Homo sapiens: one gene and its partners. The protein of the gene in region 4 purifies or fractionates together with the protein of the main gene of each other region. This does not show direct contact. Each region holds a gene or a part of one and is shown on either strand. Other genes may lie near its edges.

Region 1 (4,054 bases), on a different chromosome or scaffold from region 4:
AGTACCAAATAAATGAGGTAAAAAGGAAGGGTCATACAAAGAGGGCACTACACCAGCTTCTTGGCCTCAAAGAAGCTCTTGAGGTGACGCATCTGCCAGATGCCAGTGAGGATGAGGATGACAGTCTGAGCAATGGACCACCATAGGACCCTCTGGTTGGTGCTCTCGCTCGTCAGTCGGAAGCGCTCTTCACGATACTGTGTGGGGCAACACAGGGTTAAGTGAGCAGGAGAAACAGTCTGGCTGTTGTGAGGTCCCTCCCTGCGTGTAATTACTCAACTCCAGGACCAAACTCCTTTTGGAATACTATCTGTGACTCCATTAGGAGTGCTATGGTCTCCCCACTGAGGCTGCCCCAAGAAAGGGACAGGCTGTCCCTCCACAAGCATCTCTGTTAGGACTGAAATCATGATCCTACCATTTCCAACAAGAGTCCAAGAAAAACAGGTAGGCAATGGCTATTACTAGATTGTGAACTGTCCTTTCTTCATTTTATTTTATAGAGCTTAAAAATGACTACTGAAAGCGAAATGTGGCACATGCATACAATGGAATATTAGCCTTAAGAAATTCTGACACATGCTATAACATGGATGAACTGTGAGAACATTATACTCAGTGAAATAAGCCAGTCACAAAAGGACAAATACTGAATGATTCCACTTATATGAGATAGGGTAGTCAGGATCATAGAGACAGAAAGTAGAATGGTGGGTGTCAGGACAAAAGGAAACGGGAAGTTATTGTTTATAATAAGTACAGATTTGCTGGGTGCAGTGGCTCACGCCTGTAATCCCAACACTTTGGGAGGCTGCGGCAGTGGATTGCCTGAGGCCAGGAGTTCAAGACCAGCCTGGCCAACATGGTGAAACCCAGTCTCTACTAAAAACACAAAAATGAGCCACGCATGGTGGCACTTGCCTGTAATCCCAGCTACTTGGGAGGCTGAGGCAGGAGAATCGCTTGAACCTGGGAGGCGGAGGGTGCAGTGAGCCGAGATGGCGCCACTGCGCTCCAGCCTGGGCAACAGAGCGAGACTCCATCTCAAAAACAAAACAAAATAAGTACAGATTTTTAGTTTGAGAAGATGAAAAAGTTCTGGAGCTGGATGATGGTGTTGGTAGCACAACATTATGAAGGCACTTAATACCACTGAACTATATAGACAGTTAAAATGACACATTTGGTGTTATATTTTACCACAATAAAATGTTTTGATAAAAAAGCAAAACAGGCAGGGCGCGGTAGCTCACACCTGTAATCCCAGCACTTTGGGAGGCTGAGGCGGGCGGATCACTTGATGTCGGGAGTTCGAGACCAGCCTGACCAACGTGGAGAAACCCCCGTCTCTACTAAAAGTACAAAATTAGCCAGGCATGGTGGCGCATGCCTGTAATCCCAGCTACTCAGGAGGCTGAGGCAGGAGAATCGCTTGAACCTGGGGAGGCGGAGGTTGCAGTGAGCCAAGATCATGGCATTGCACTCCAGCATGGGCAACAAGAGTGAAACTCCGTCTCAAAAACAACAAACAAACAACCTATCTAAACCAATACTTCTCATTCCATTCTCTGCAGAGCTGATCTCCCAAGCAGAAACTTGAGTAGGTATAGTGGGTATAAAGGTCAACTGCCCTCTCAAATTACAAGGAGATATGCACTTGCCCTTTGGTAATCCTGCTCCTTCTGAATCTGTTCCACCTGATCAAGCAACTGGCGGGCGCGGAGCTGTAGCTCCGTCAGCTTATCTTTTGCAGCAATCTCAGGGTAGTTGTTGGCATGCTCCCCAACCTGGATGTCGAGATGCACCCGCTACAAGGAAACATGGAATGTATGAGTGGTGGGGCCTCCAGTTGTCTGTTCCAGGGTATGGAACCCACTATTGTCCCTGGCTGTGGAGCAGAAGGCAACATCTGTCTCCCCAATTCTGACTGTGCTACAAAGTTTCACAATCTTGATAAATCAAAATTTGGAAACAAGTGAGAGATTCTAAGCTGAAGCCAAAGAGAAAATCCTCTTACCAGTTTGCCACCAGCGAAGAGAGCCATCCTGGTAGAATTGGAGTGCAGACAGATTTGATGGTCACCGGGCGTGTGGGAGGTGAACGTGAAGCGGCCCTCCGAGCCGTACTGCCGGGACAGCACCACCTGCAACATATGTGAGTGAAGGCCCCACCTTTATACCGCAGGCTCTCCAAGTGCAAGTTCCTGTCCCTTGAGGCCTCCTCCAGGCAGTGCTTTACACCCCACGGGAGCTCCACTGAAGAACGGCTGCGTGGGCCAACGCCAGCCTTACCTTGCCGTCGGGGTCCTTCACTTCCACGTGCATGCCCAGGCCAGGGGTCGAGGGCAGGAAGACCTCCTTCTGCTTATCCCACATCTGGGTACGATAGTTGCCTGCGGGGCAGACACATAGTCACGACCGGCCCTAGTGGGCCGCCTCTCCGCCCGGCCCCCTCCGACGTGCGGCCCGGAGCTCTAGGCAGGGGGCCTGGCGTCCTCGGGGCACCCTCAGGCTAGGTACTGGGGGAGCCAGCGACCCGGCTGGGCTCGGGAGGAGGGAGCGCCGCCGAGGGCTGAGCTGGGTACAAAGGGCCTCCCCACCCTCAGCCCGCCTGACCGATGACCATGGTCTCGTCGGGGATTTCCTCGATGAAACAGCGCTTCTCGGTCTCGCCGATGTGGAAGTAGAGCCCCTGGGCGCCTGTGGCGCACAGCGCGAGAAGCAGCAGGGCCTGCCGCCCCATCGCCCGCAGAGGCCCAGCCCCGACACCTGCCATCGCGCCTCAGCCCCTAAGCGCCTGCGCACATTTGCGCATCGCTCTGCGCCTGCGCGCCACCCTAGCGACCCTGAGAGTTAGGGGAAGAGGACGCCTGCGCAGTGATATGTACTCGCCGTCTCCTGCAACTCCATCCGTACCGAACACTGCCGCGCCCCGCCCCCTCACACAGCCCGGCGCCCGCCTACCCCCGCAACGAGAGTAGAGGGCGCATGCGCAATGACGTTCGCCCTTAATTTCTCGCCCCTTACCCCGCAGCTTACCTCCGGCATCTCGCAGGGGAGGCACGCCTGCGCAGTCACGCCCGCCCTCGGCCCCAGTCAGCGATTTGGGTCTCGGAGCACCAAGGAGACGGTGGACGGAATCTGACCAGGCTTGGTGGCTACGATGGCCTGAAGCGTGCCTTTTGGGTTCTCAGCTCGGGCTCACAAGTGTTTTCTGTGCTAAATACAAAAAGCCCTGTGATGTTTTGCTTTGCGTGTCCACCTATCTGACTCGTAAGAACCGAGGCTGAATCCAGACCCACACTCTGTCACGTCGGGAGAGCCTGCCGCGGCGAGCCTCTGCGAGCGGGCATTTCTTGGGTGGGGACCAAAAGCCCAGTGCTGCCATAGTTTCGGATCATTCTTTTAAGAAGCTGGGGCCGGGCGCGGTGGCTGGCACCTGTAATCCCAGCACTCTGGGAGGCTGAGGCGGGCGGATCCCTTGAGCCCAGGAGTTCGGGACCAGCCTGGGCAACATGGTGAAACCCCCGTCTCTACAAAAAATTAACCGGTGTGGTGGTGTGCGCATGTAGTCCCAGCTACTTGGGAGGCTGAGGCAGGAGAATCGCTTGAACCCAGGAGGTCGAGGATGCATTAAGCAGTGATCGCGCTCCAGCCTGGGCGACCGAGGGTGATACCTTGTCTTAAAAAAAAGGTGGGAGAGTGGAACGAAAACTTGGAATAAGTAGGGTCATGGAGCTTGTTTACATCCCCTAGTTACAGCACATCCTTTTGAAAGTGAAAAACAAACTGGAATGTTACTTAGTGGGCATGGAATCGAAGCAACGGAAGGTTAAAACTGTTTTTATCAAGGCCAGGCGGGCGCGGTGGCTCACGCCTGTAATGCTAACACTTTGGGCGGCCAAGGCTGGTGGATCATCTGAGGTTAGAAATTCGAGACCAGTTGGGCCAACAAGGTGAAACCCCCGTCTCTACTAAAAATACATTTTATCAACAGAATTTCGAAACTTTTATATAATAGAATAATTACAATGAACTTTCATAAAGAACTTGAG
Region 2 (4,052 bases), on a different chromosome or scaffold from region 4:
TGTCACCCAGGCTGGGGTGCAGTGGCGCGATCTCGGCTCACTGCAAGCTCCGCCTCCGGGGTTCACGCCATTCTCCTGCCTCAGCCTCCTGAGTAGCTGGGACTACAGGCGCCCGCCACCACGCTCAGCTAATTTTTTGTGTTTTTAGTAGAGACGGGGTTTCACCGTGTTAGCCAGGATGGTCTCGATCTCCTGACCTCATGATCCGCCCGCCTCGGCCTCCCAAAGTGCTGGGATTACAGGCGTGAGCCACCGCGCCCGGCCAACGCCACAACTGTTAACAGTGTGCCATAGTTGCTTATCTGCATACACATATGTGCGTGTAATGATTTACTTTTTTGCAGAATGAATTACAGACATCATGACAGGTCACCTTTACCAAAGAGTTCTGCAGTTATTTCTAAAAATAAAGAATATTTTTCTACTTCAGGGTATGTCAAACTGTGGCCCTAGGCCAAATGCAGCCTCCCCGTTTTTTTTTTTGTTGTTGTTTTTTGAGACAGAGTCTCACTCTGTCGCCCAGGCTGGAGTGCAGCGGCGCAATCTCGACTCACTGCAACCTCCGCCTCCCGGATTCAAGCAATTCTCCTGCCTCAGCCTCCTGAGTAGCTGGGATTACAAGCGCCCGCCACTACGCCTGGCTAATTTTTGTATTTTTAGTAGAGACAGGGTTTCACCATGTTGGTCAGGCTGGTCTCAAACTCCTGACCTCGTGATCCACCCGCCTCAGCCTCCCAAAGTGCTGGAATTACAGGCGTGAGCCACCGCGCCCGGCACACCCCTGGTTTTAAAAATAAAGTTTCGAGCCGAGAGTGGTGGCGCCCGTGGTCCCAGCTCCTCGGGAGGCTGAGGCTGGGGGATCCCTGGAGCCCGCGAGGCAAAGGCTGCAGTGAGCCGAGATCGCGCCTTGCACTCCAGCGTGGGTAACAGAGCGAGACCCTGTCTCAGGAAAAAAATACAAGTGGGGTTATAAATAAAATGAGATTAAAAAACAACAGATCTTTGCCTCAGAATCCCGACCCACCGCAGCCCCAGCGAGGCGCAGGCGCAGGCGCAGGCGCGCGCTCGCTGGTTCCGCCCATGCGCACAGGCAGGGAGCGCGCGCCCCCTCTGTAGCCTTCGGCCTCCGGGGGCTGCAGTTGCGCGGCTCGGCCACTGCGCGGCGGTGGCGTGCGCCTGGGCGGTGTCGCGGGCTGTGACGTCACGCCACGCGCCGGGGCCAGGAGGAGGCGGGCGCAGGAGGCGCGTGCTCAGTGTGCTGGGTACCAGGCGACTCCGGGACAGGGGGTCTCGGCCGTCGGCGTCATGGTTTCGCGCGTGCAGCTCCCGCCTGAGATCCAGCTGGCTCAGCGCCTGGCGGGGAATGAGCAGGTGACCCGGGACCGGGCGGTGAGGAAGCTCCGGAAATACATCGTCGCCAGGACTCAGCGGGCCGCAGGTTGGCGGGGGTGTGGGCGGCTGGCGTCTCGGGGGCCGGCTGGGCTGGTGCGGGTGTGGGCGGCGGCGGCCGGAGCTGGGGGCCCTCCGAGCCCTGTGGAACCTCCACGTGGCCGGGCCGGGCAGGCGGGGTCCACTGGCCTGTTCCCGCTGTTACCGGCCCACGGCCCCCGCCGCCGCTTTCCCTCGTGGTGCGGTGACTCTGGTCCCTCTGCGAGAACGCTCCTCCCCAGCCCCGTAACCCCTTTCCTAGCTCAGGCGTCCCCTCCCTCCAGTAGACCATGTACTCCTGCTGCCCTGCTGTTTGGGCACCCAGTATTTTTCCCTCATGGCAGCATTTCCCACTGTTTGCAGTTTTCTGTTTTGCGTTAATTATTGGATTGTTTTCCGATTTCCACTCGAGAGTACCTCTCTGAGGGCCGAGAATCTACTTCTTGTTCATGGTACCAGGTGGTTCTCCGAGCGTGGTCCCCCATCAGCAGTAGCATCCCCTGGACATTTGTTAGAAATACACGTTCTATGCCGGGCGCAGTGGCCCAAGCCTGTAATCCCAGCTACTTGGCACGTCGATGTGGGAGGATCACAAAGGCCCAGGAGTCCAGCCTGGGCAACATAGCAAGACTCCATTTCCATCGCAAAAGAAAAGAAAGAAATGCAAGTTCTAGGATCCCAGCCCTACTAAATCAGGACTGGCATCTGCTTTATGAAGCTGTTCAAGTGCTTCTGCTCCCCACACTCAGCCTGAGAACCACTGCTGCAGGAACAGGTTGCCAGACACATAGGACTTCAGTGAATGTCAACTGAGTAATGTTTTAAATTAAAATTTTTTGTTATTTTTCTGAGTGAGACAGACCTCACTGTCATCCGTGGTGGAGGAGTGCATTGGCACGATTACAGCTCACTGCAGCCTCTACCTCCCAGGCTCAAGTGAGCCTCCCATCTCAGCCTCCCCAATAGCTGGGACTACTGGCACCGTGCGGCCAGGCCAGCTAAGTTTTGTATTTTTTGTACAAATTGGGGTCTTCCTATGTTGCCCAGACTGGTCTTGAACTCCTGGCCTCAAGTGATCCTGCCTCAGCACTCAATTCCAAAGTGCTGGGAGTACAGGCGTGAGCCACCGCACCTGGCCTCAGTAATTTCTGTTTCTCTCGTAGTCTGAATGCCTGAGTTCACTTTCTTCTTTTAGTATTTGAGATATATTACAGGAGAGTGCAGAAGCCCTCAGTATAATGCTGGATGAATTATCACCAACAGATTAACCTTGTGGCCACTGTCCAGCTTAGGAAACCGTCAAGGTTCGCAATTTTGAATTTCCAAAATGGAGTATGGTGCCTGATACCTTGTAGATCTCAGTCGGTTTTACTGTGTGCGTGAAGTAGCAGTTACCTGGAGTAGCCGCATAGCCACAGGCGCGGCAGGTTCTGGGTTAGAAGGATTGTTTGAAGGGGAGGGCCAGATTCTGCCCCCCAGTTGCCTTTACCGTAAGTGGGACTTTGGTCTCATTCAGGCAGTCACGTTTCTGTGGCTTCCTTTCTGGCACTCGAAGGTGTGGGATTCATTTGGTCCAACCGTTGCTGTTTTGATGCAGGTGGTTTTACGCACGACGAGCTGCTGAAGGTGTGGAAAGGACTGTTTTATTGCATGTGGATGCAGGACAAGCCACTCCTCCAGGTGAGTGGGGGGAGCAGCAGAGCAGGTACAGAAGCAGCGGGGGAGGATGGATGGGCATCTGGTCAACCCAGTTTTTCTTTTTTTTTTAAGTCGGAGTTTCGCTCTTGTTGCCCAGGCTGGAGTGCAGTGGCTCAATCTCGGCTTACTGCAACCTCAGCCTTCTGGTTTCAAGCAATTTTCCTGCCTCAGCCTCCCAAGTAGCTGGGAGTACAGGTACCTGCCACCATGCCTGGCTAATTTTTTGTATTTTTAGTAGAGACAGAGTTTCATCATGTTGGTCAGGCTGGTCTCGAACTCCTGAGCTCAAGTGATCCTCCCATCTCGGCCTCCCAAAGTGCTGGGATTACAGGCATGAGCCACCGCGCCCGGCCTGGTCAACCCAGTTTTAATATGGCCAGAGACCGTGGGGAGGTCGTATAGCCTTGACGCTTGGTTCGGCACGGCTGGTGGGCCTGGGCCTTTGTTAGGTGAGTCTTACACTTGCTGAGGTGTTGATGTGATTGACTGAGCCGTGCACTGCAGCAGCACTGGCATGGGTGAAAACTGGGTTTTGTGTTTGTCCTGGGTTGCAAACAAGTGCTGAAATAGTGGAAACCACGGGGCGGAATTCAAGTCTCCTGAGACAAGGACGTCTCCTGCTAGCCTTTTCCAAACATTGTTTCTCAAATTGTGAATTTTGTGCTCTCCTTCAAAATCTCCTGGGTGGTGAGGGTACTTAGTTAAGTTCAGGTTCCTGGGCCATATTCCATGCCCACTGAATTATCAAGGGGAGGCTGTGAAATGTCCCTTAGCAAGTATTCTGGGCGATGGCTGGCACGGTGATGTAGGCAGATAGCCAGTGATCTATGGGGTCTCGCAGCCCTCTTCCTCCTGATGGTTAGGGGGCTGTGAGTCCCAAGGCTCCCTTCCGCTCTCCCACGTCCCTCTTTAACCGTGACTCTGTG
Region 3 (2,214 bases), on a different chromosome or scaffold from region 4:
AGGCAGGAAGATAGCTTGAGCCCAGGAGTTCCAGACCAGCCTGGGCAACATAGTGACACCCTGACTCTATATGTGTGTATAATTAATATATAAAAAACATAGGGAAAAAAGACCTGTGTTATTCCAGAGGCATGGGAGAAGAACCAAGAAAAGGGGAAAGGCACATAATGAACACTGTGTCTAGGCACAGTGCTACATGTCTACACGGTGCCATTTAATCCTCAGAATGACTGCTTTTCTTTTTATAGCTGAGAGTACAGGAGTGAACATTTTCATATATAAGAGCAATGTGCTATGGGAGTCTCTTCAGTAGGAGGTTGGCATGACTTGGCTTCACTGATGTGGTCCCAAAGCAAACAGACTAGACAGGCAGACCAGTCACATACCCTGCCAGCTCCGTGTGTGCCAGCATCTGCCCTGTCTCTGCCAGGCCTTATCAGGATTACCCAGTGTTTGTTTGAAATTTTGCTAGGTCTCAGAAACAGAAAGTACGCCAAGGATTTTAGGAAAATCAAAAATTTTAATCTTATCATCTTTACATACAACAAACATGTCAAGACCCCCTATTGTCTTTGAAAAGGTCCCCCCTCCCCCGCCAAAATCTGTAGACCATAAGTCTTGGCCTACACTGACCTGGTTTGTAAAATATCTTCCTCTGTGTACTTTTCCCTTCAGCCTCAGGCTCTTGGCTGATTCGCTCACAACAGAAGCAGCTTGGCTTTCCTCTGGAAGTACCAATTTGAAAGCCCACCAGCCTGCAAACCTAGAGTGTATTCTCCACCCCTGGGTCACAGAACTTCGTTCTCCCCGGCTCTGTAACCCAAGGACCCTACAGCCTCTGAGGCCTAACACCCAAGCTCTTCCTTGCAGAAGAGCTGAGATGCTAAGGAGACCATCTGGAGTGTCATAATAAGCCCTTGGGATTTGCTGAGCTCCCACATGGCTTTCTTCAACCACCTGGCCCACTTTCTTCAACCACATTCCACTTTGGAATGCGTGTCTTTAAGGCACCAAGTGATCTTAAGAATGGGCTCTGTTTTTGAATTCAGCAATCCAAGTTCCTATCTATCTCGGTGGGACCTCCAAAAAAAAGAAAAAGGATTGGCTTGGCTTCTAATGTAAGGCCTGCCTTTTACACACCAGTTGTGTGTTTGTTAGTGGCTGCTGGATGCCAGTCCACACCCTCAAACACCTCACAGTCCCAAACGGGGTGCTCCTACAGGTCCCAGGGTCCTGTTAGTGGAAGAAAGGCAGTTCCAGGAAGTCTTCCTCTAGCCTTCATGACAGGAAGTAGTTAATCCTCTGGGAAATAGACTTGCAGCCCTGGGAAGAAAAGAGTTGTTCCTCCTTGGGGACATACACCATCATCTGGGCTATTTCATCCAGTGTCTCTTCTTTATACAGGAGCTCCTGGCTCAGGAAGGCATCCCGTGCACACAGCCTCACGTGACGGTACTCCAAAGGCAGGAAGGGGATGAAGTAGTCAATCAGGTTTTCCTTCACAAGACGGCTGTGGCCAAAGCCATTGTCTGAAAGCAAGACCAAAGTTACATGGAGTCTGACCTAGGACTGAACCTAGCTGGAATTTAGCGGGGGTGGGGGTTGCTGTTGGTTTCTTTGAAACAGGGGCTTGCTCTGTCAACCAGGCTGGAGTGCAGTGGTGAGATCTGGGCTCCTTGCAGCCTCCACCTCCTAGGTTCAAGGGATCCTCCCATCTCAGCCTGTGAGTAACTGGGACCACAGGCGTACAGCACCACACCTGGCTAATTTTTGTTTTTTTTCTAGAGACGGGGTTTCACTATGTTGGCCAGACTGGTCTAGATCTCCTGGACTCAAGTGATCCGCCCGCCTCAGCCTCCCAAAGTGTTGGGATTACAGGTGTGAGCCACCACACCTGGCCCCGACTGAAGGGGCTGGGTGAGGTTGGATCTCATCTCTCAACTCCAGGAGTGCTGTCTGCAGCGTATGTCAAGAACTCTACAGCTGTGTCTCCTTTAGGTAAAGTCTTGCAGTGAGACTCAGAGTCTCAGGCTTCAGAGACCACTGCGCCTGTTCTTGGGGCCAGTGCAAACTACTATTTCCAAGCATTCCCAGAAAAGGAGCTCAGGCTTTCTTACCACTTTTCTTGTGCCCACCCAGGGTTGACAATGTGAGATGATTATAGTCTGCCCTCTGTGTTCCCAAGTACCCTGTCTGCTTCATAAACACACATTC
Region 4 (3,500 bases):
GTGGACTCTTAGGCACAACAGCTCTAGGAGGTGGATTCTCTTGTTAACCCCGTTTTGTGGATGAGGAAACTGGGTCCCTAGCCCACACAGTGACCGAGTGGTAAGGCTAGGATTGAACCCAGGTGGTCTGACTCCAGGTCCCAGCTTCAGCCGCAACCTAGAGGTGGCTGCCTGGGGTGGAGGGAGGGCGGGGAGTGGTTGCCATGGCTGTGCGCTGACACATTAACTCGTGGAAGAGGGAATCAAGAAGAGTGAAATAATAGGCATAGATTGTGCTTTCACAGGGATGAATGGTCATGAAATTAAATTTGCAGATGAGGCCAAACCTCATGAGGCCCCAAATCTAAGCAGGAAACAGCAAGATGGCCCCAACCAGGAGAAATGCAATTTACCACGCACACCAAGGTGGTAATCCTCGCTAAATGACTTTTGTGAGAAAGAGGCGTGTGAGTGGCTGTCGCGAGGGATGGCAAGGTAGTGATGACCACTGACAGCAGGTAGCCTCTGCACCAGCACAGGCCCAGCCCCAGGCACAGCAACAGGGAGGGGAAATCCACGTGCGATCCCAGTGCCACTCCCAGCCCATGTCAGCCTCTGCCAAGGAGATTCAAACAGACACACGAAAGCTGAGTCTTTGGAAGTCAGAATCAAATCAGACCCAGATGTCTATAGGAGGTGTAAGGAGGAATATTCCCGGGAGAAAGAATCACATAGGAAAAAGGGAAGGTGTCAGAAAGAACCAAGAGCTCTGGCCTCAGCAAGCCAGAGAGAGGCTGGCTGCCCCAGCTCAACCTGTGTGGGCAGATTGCTGAATCACATGCTGAGCCCAACCAGCATAGACAGCGCCGGCTTTTTGCACTGGCTCAATCAGTGTAGACAGCCTGCCTATATCACATACTGATTCCAACTAGTGTAGACAGACTGCATTGCACACTGGGCTTGACCACCCCAGCTCTGGGAGACAGAGCCTGATGGACGTGGCCAACATCTGAGGGGAAGCCCGGACCCAGGCTGAGCTCAGCCACAGGAAAAGCCACTGAATCTACAGAGTTTGAGAGCTCTGAACCTTGTGCAAAGACCCCACAGAGAGTGGGGCAAGCACAGACTACATGGAATGTTCTAGTGCTCATGCCCTAGACTCAACCAAGTGTAGACAGACTGCCTGCCCCACACTCTGTCTTAGCCAGTGTAGATAGACTGCCTGACCCATGCACTGGCTCCGTCAGTTAGACAGACTGCCTGTACCACGCACTGGCCCCACCAGTGTAGACAGACTGCCTGACCCACGTGCTGGCTCCGTCATCGTAGACGGACTGCTTGCCCCATGCACTGGCCCCACCAGTGTAGACAGACTGCCTGCACCACACACTGGCCCAGCCAGTGTAGACAGACTGCCTTCCCCACGCACTGGCCCCACCAGTGTGGACAGACTGCCTGACCCACGTGCTGGCTCCGTCAGTGTAGGCGGACTGCCTGCCCCATGCACTGGCCCCACCAGTGTAGACAGACTGCCTGCACCACACACTGGCCCAGCCAGTGTAGACAGACTGCCTTCCCCACGCACCGGCTATGCTGAAGTAGACAGACTGCACAGTTTAATGCACTCTGCCTGCCCACAAGCAATCGCTCAGTACCTTCTCCATGCCGAGCTCCTCCTGGCCAACACAACCAGAAAGAGCAGCATCTGCACCAACACTGTAACCTGCTTGTGTTTGCTCAACTTCTCCAGGGCCAGGTGTACGAGGCTCTGCATATGGCAGGTCAGGGTCAGTGTTTGCTGGGTGCCTGGATGCGGCACAGGAAGCAAAGCTCCTGCAGCTCAAGGCTGGAGGAGGGTCTCAGTGCTGCAAGCCTAGGCTGATGAGTCTTGTCCCAAGAGATGAGTCAGCCCCCAAAAAGGCAGCCTCGAAGGTGGGGACGACTTGTCTGCCAAGTGCGAGTCAGTCTGTGCCCGGGCTAGGGGCTGCTGGCAGAGGGGCTCTCCTGTGTCAGCTTCCCACTGATAAGCATCTGGGCATGTCCAGGGGTCCACAGTGGTGAAGGCAACAGACAGAATGGAGTGGCCAGGCCAGCCCAGGAAGGCTCATCTGGAGAGGCCGCCCTCTGGGCAAGGAATCAGCCCTGGGAGGGGGCCTAGGGGACCAAGGAGTAATGTGCAGCTCCTAGCATCCTCTGCTTAGCTCTCTTCCCTCCTGTCCCCGAGTCTGGCCCAGTCAGGGAGGAGCTGGCTCAGGCCCAGACAGTGAGGACAAGGTGACAGCGACCTGGGCTGTTGCCTGCAGCTCGGTGGCCACTCAGCTCAGGGCCTGCAGCCAGCAGCATGGGCACAACGGGAAATGGGGTGACTCACAGACCTGCTTCCCTGCTCCCCAGCTCTGGAGGACAGAGCCTGGTAGATAGGGCCGATGTCTGCAGGGAACCCAGGGCCCGACCTGTGCTGCAGACAGCCACAGGAAATTCACCAACATCAGAGGGCACTGCGGAGCTCCCAGCCTTGGGCAGAGCCCCTCCCAGAGGGTGCAACAGGTAGAGACTGGCTCCCTTGGGGAGGAGGAAAAGGAGAGAGGGCTGAGAGCAAGAAAAGGGTATAAGAGAGGATTCTTTCTGGGGCAGGTGCCAGCCAGCTGCCAGGTTACATCAGGCAGGTGGCAGGTGAAGGAACTCTAGGGGTCCAGGAAGCTAAGTGGATGAAACACACATGGAGACCACCACTGGGCAGCACTCAGCTCCGGAGGGAAGTGGGCATCCGAGCCACAGTGGGTGGTCAGCTCCATTCCCCCAGTGGAGGCCCATCCTCAATGAGTCAGGAGGCAAAAGTTGGGCCAGGACCATGGGTCTGGCCGTCGAGCAGCTTGTCCCCACCATGGAGCTATGGGCACTGGGCTGTCACTTGCCGAGTGCCCTGGACGTGCTAGGGCTGAATGGTGAGCAGACAAGAGAGGAAGGCAGTGGAAGAACCAAGGGCTCAGAGCACAGTGGGGCCACACAACCAGCAGCCTGGCCACCCAGTCCTAGGAGGATGTGACTCAGCCAGAGTGGACAGGTGCTTAGCACTCCAGGGGGCAGCCCTGTCTCAGGGAGTAGACAACTCCCAATAGCGTCCCATGGGTAACCATCCTGACCACTCCTTACCACATCCCCTCCCACACCTAATCCAGCCAGGTACCAGTTTAGACAGAATGACTTGCAGAATGCACTGGTTCGACCAGTGTAGACAGATGGCGTGAATGGTGTGCTGAGATCCACCAGTATAAACAGATGGCCTGCATCATGAACTAGGGGCTCAACCAGTGTTACAGTGCCTGCTTTGTGCACTAGCTCAACCAGCGTAGACGCACCGCCTACACCGCCCACTAGTTTCAACCAGCGTAGATGCACTGCCTACATCACACACTGGTTTCAACCAGTGTAGACAGACTCCATTGCACATTAGGCTCAACCACCCCGGCTCCAGGAGACAGAGCCTGATGGACCAGACCAATGTCTGAGGGGAAGCCCAT

The links. Proteins that work in one complex are often made in the same cells at the same time.
Region 1: the proteins of CHST8 (region 4) and TMED4 purify together in Homo sapiens (affinity purification with mass spectrometry; 4 studies listed by BioGRID and IntAct, with this or other methods). This does not show direct contact.
Region 2: the proteins of CHST8 (region 4) and RRP1 purify together in Homo sapiens (affinity purification with mass spectrometry; 3 studies listed by BioGRID and IntAct, with this or other methods). This does not show direct contact.
Region 3: the proteins of CHST8 (region 4) and TOR3A purify together in Homo sapiens (affinity purification with mass spectrometry; 3 studies listed by BioGRID and IntAct, with this or other methods). This does not show direct contact.

What each region holds. Positions count from the first base shown.
Region 1 is NC_000007.14:44,579,432-44,583,485, forward strand, and holds the start of TMED4 (transmembrane emp24 domain-containing protein 4 isoform 1 precursor), read right to left. Parts: upstream 2,801-4,054; 5' UTR 2,776-2,800; coding exon 2,616-2,775; exon of another isoform or gene 2,393-2,615; coding exon 2,292-2,392; intron 2,144-2,291; coding exon 2,018-2,143; intron 1,809-2,017; coding exon 1,662-1,808; coding exon of another isoform or gene 1,635-1,661; exon of another isoform or gene 466-1,634; intron 198-465; coding exon 48-197; 3' UTR 1-47. UniProt on the Homo sapiens protein: Involved in vesicular protein trafficking, mainly in the early secretory pathway. targeting. Involved in the maintenance of the Golgi apparatus. Appears to play a role in the biosynthesis of secreted cargo including processing.
Region 2 is NC_000021.9:43,788,325-43,792,376, forward strand, and holds the start of RRP1 (ribosomal RNA processing protein 1 homolog A), read left to right. Parts: upstream 1-1,252; 5' UTR 1,253-1,305; coding exon 1,306-1,438; intron 1,439-3,025; coding exon 3,026-3,108; intron 3,109-4,052. UniProt on the Homo sapiens protein: Plays a critical role in the generation of 28S rRNA.
Region 3 is NC_000001.11:179,094,283-179,096,496, reverse strand, and holds the end of TOR3A (torsin-3A precursor), read right to left. Parts: intron 1,530-2,214; coding exon 1,279-1,529; 3' UTR 501-1,278; downstream 1-500.
Region 4 is NC_000019.10:33,628,453-33,631,952, reverse strand, and holds part of CHST8 (carbohydrate sulfotransferase 8), read right to left. Parts: intron 1-3,500. UniProt on the Homo sapiens protein: Catalyzes the transfer of sulfate to position 4 of non-reducing N-acetylgalactosamine (GalNAc) residues in both N-glycans and O-glycans.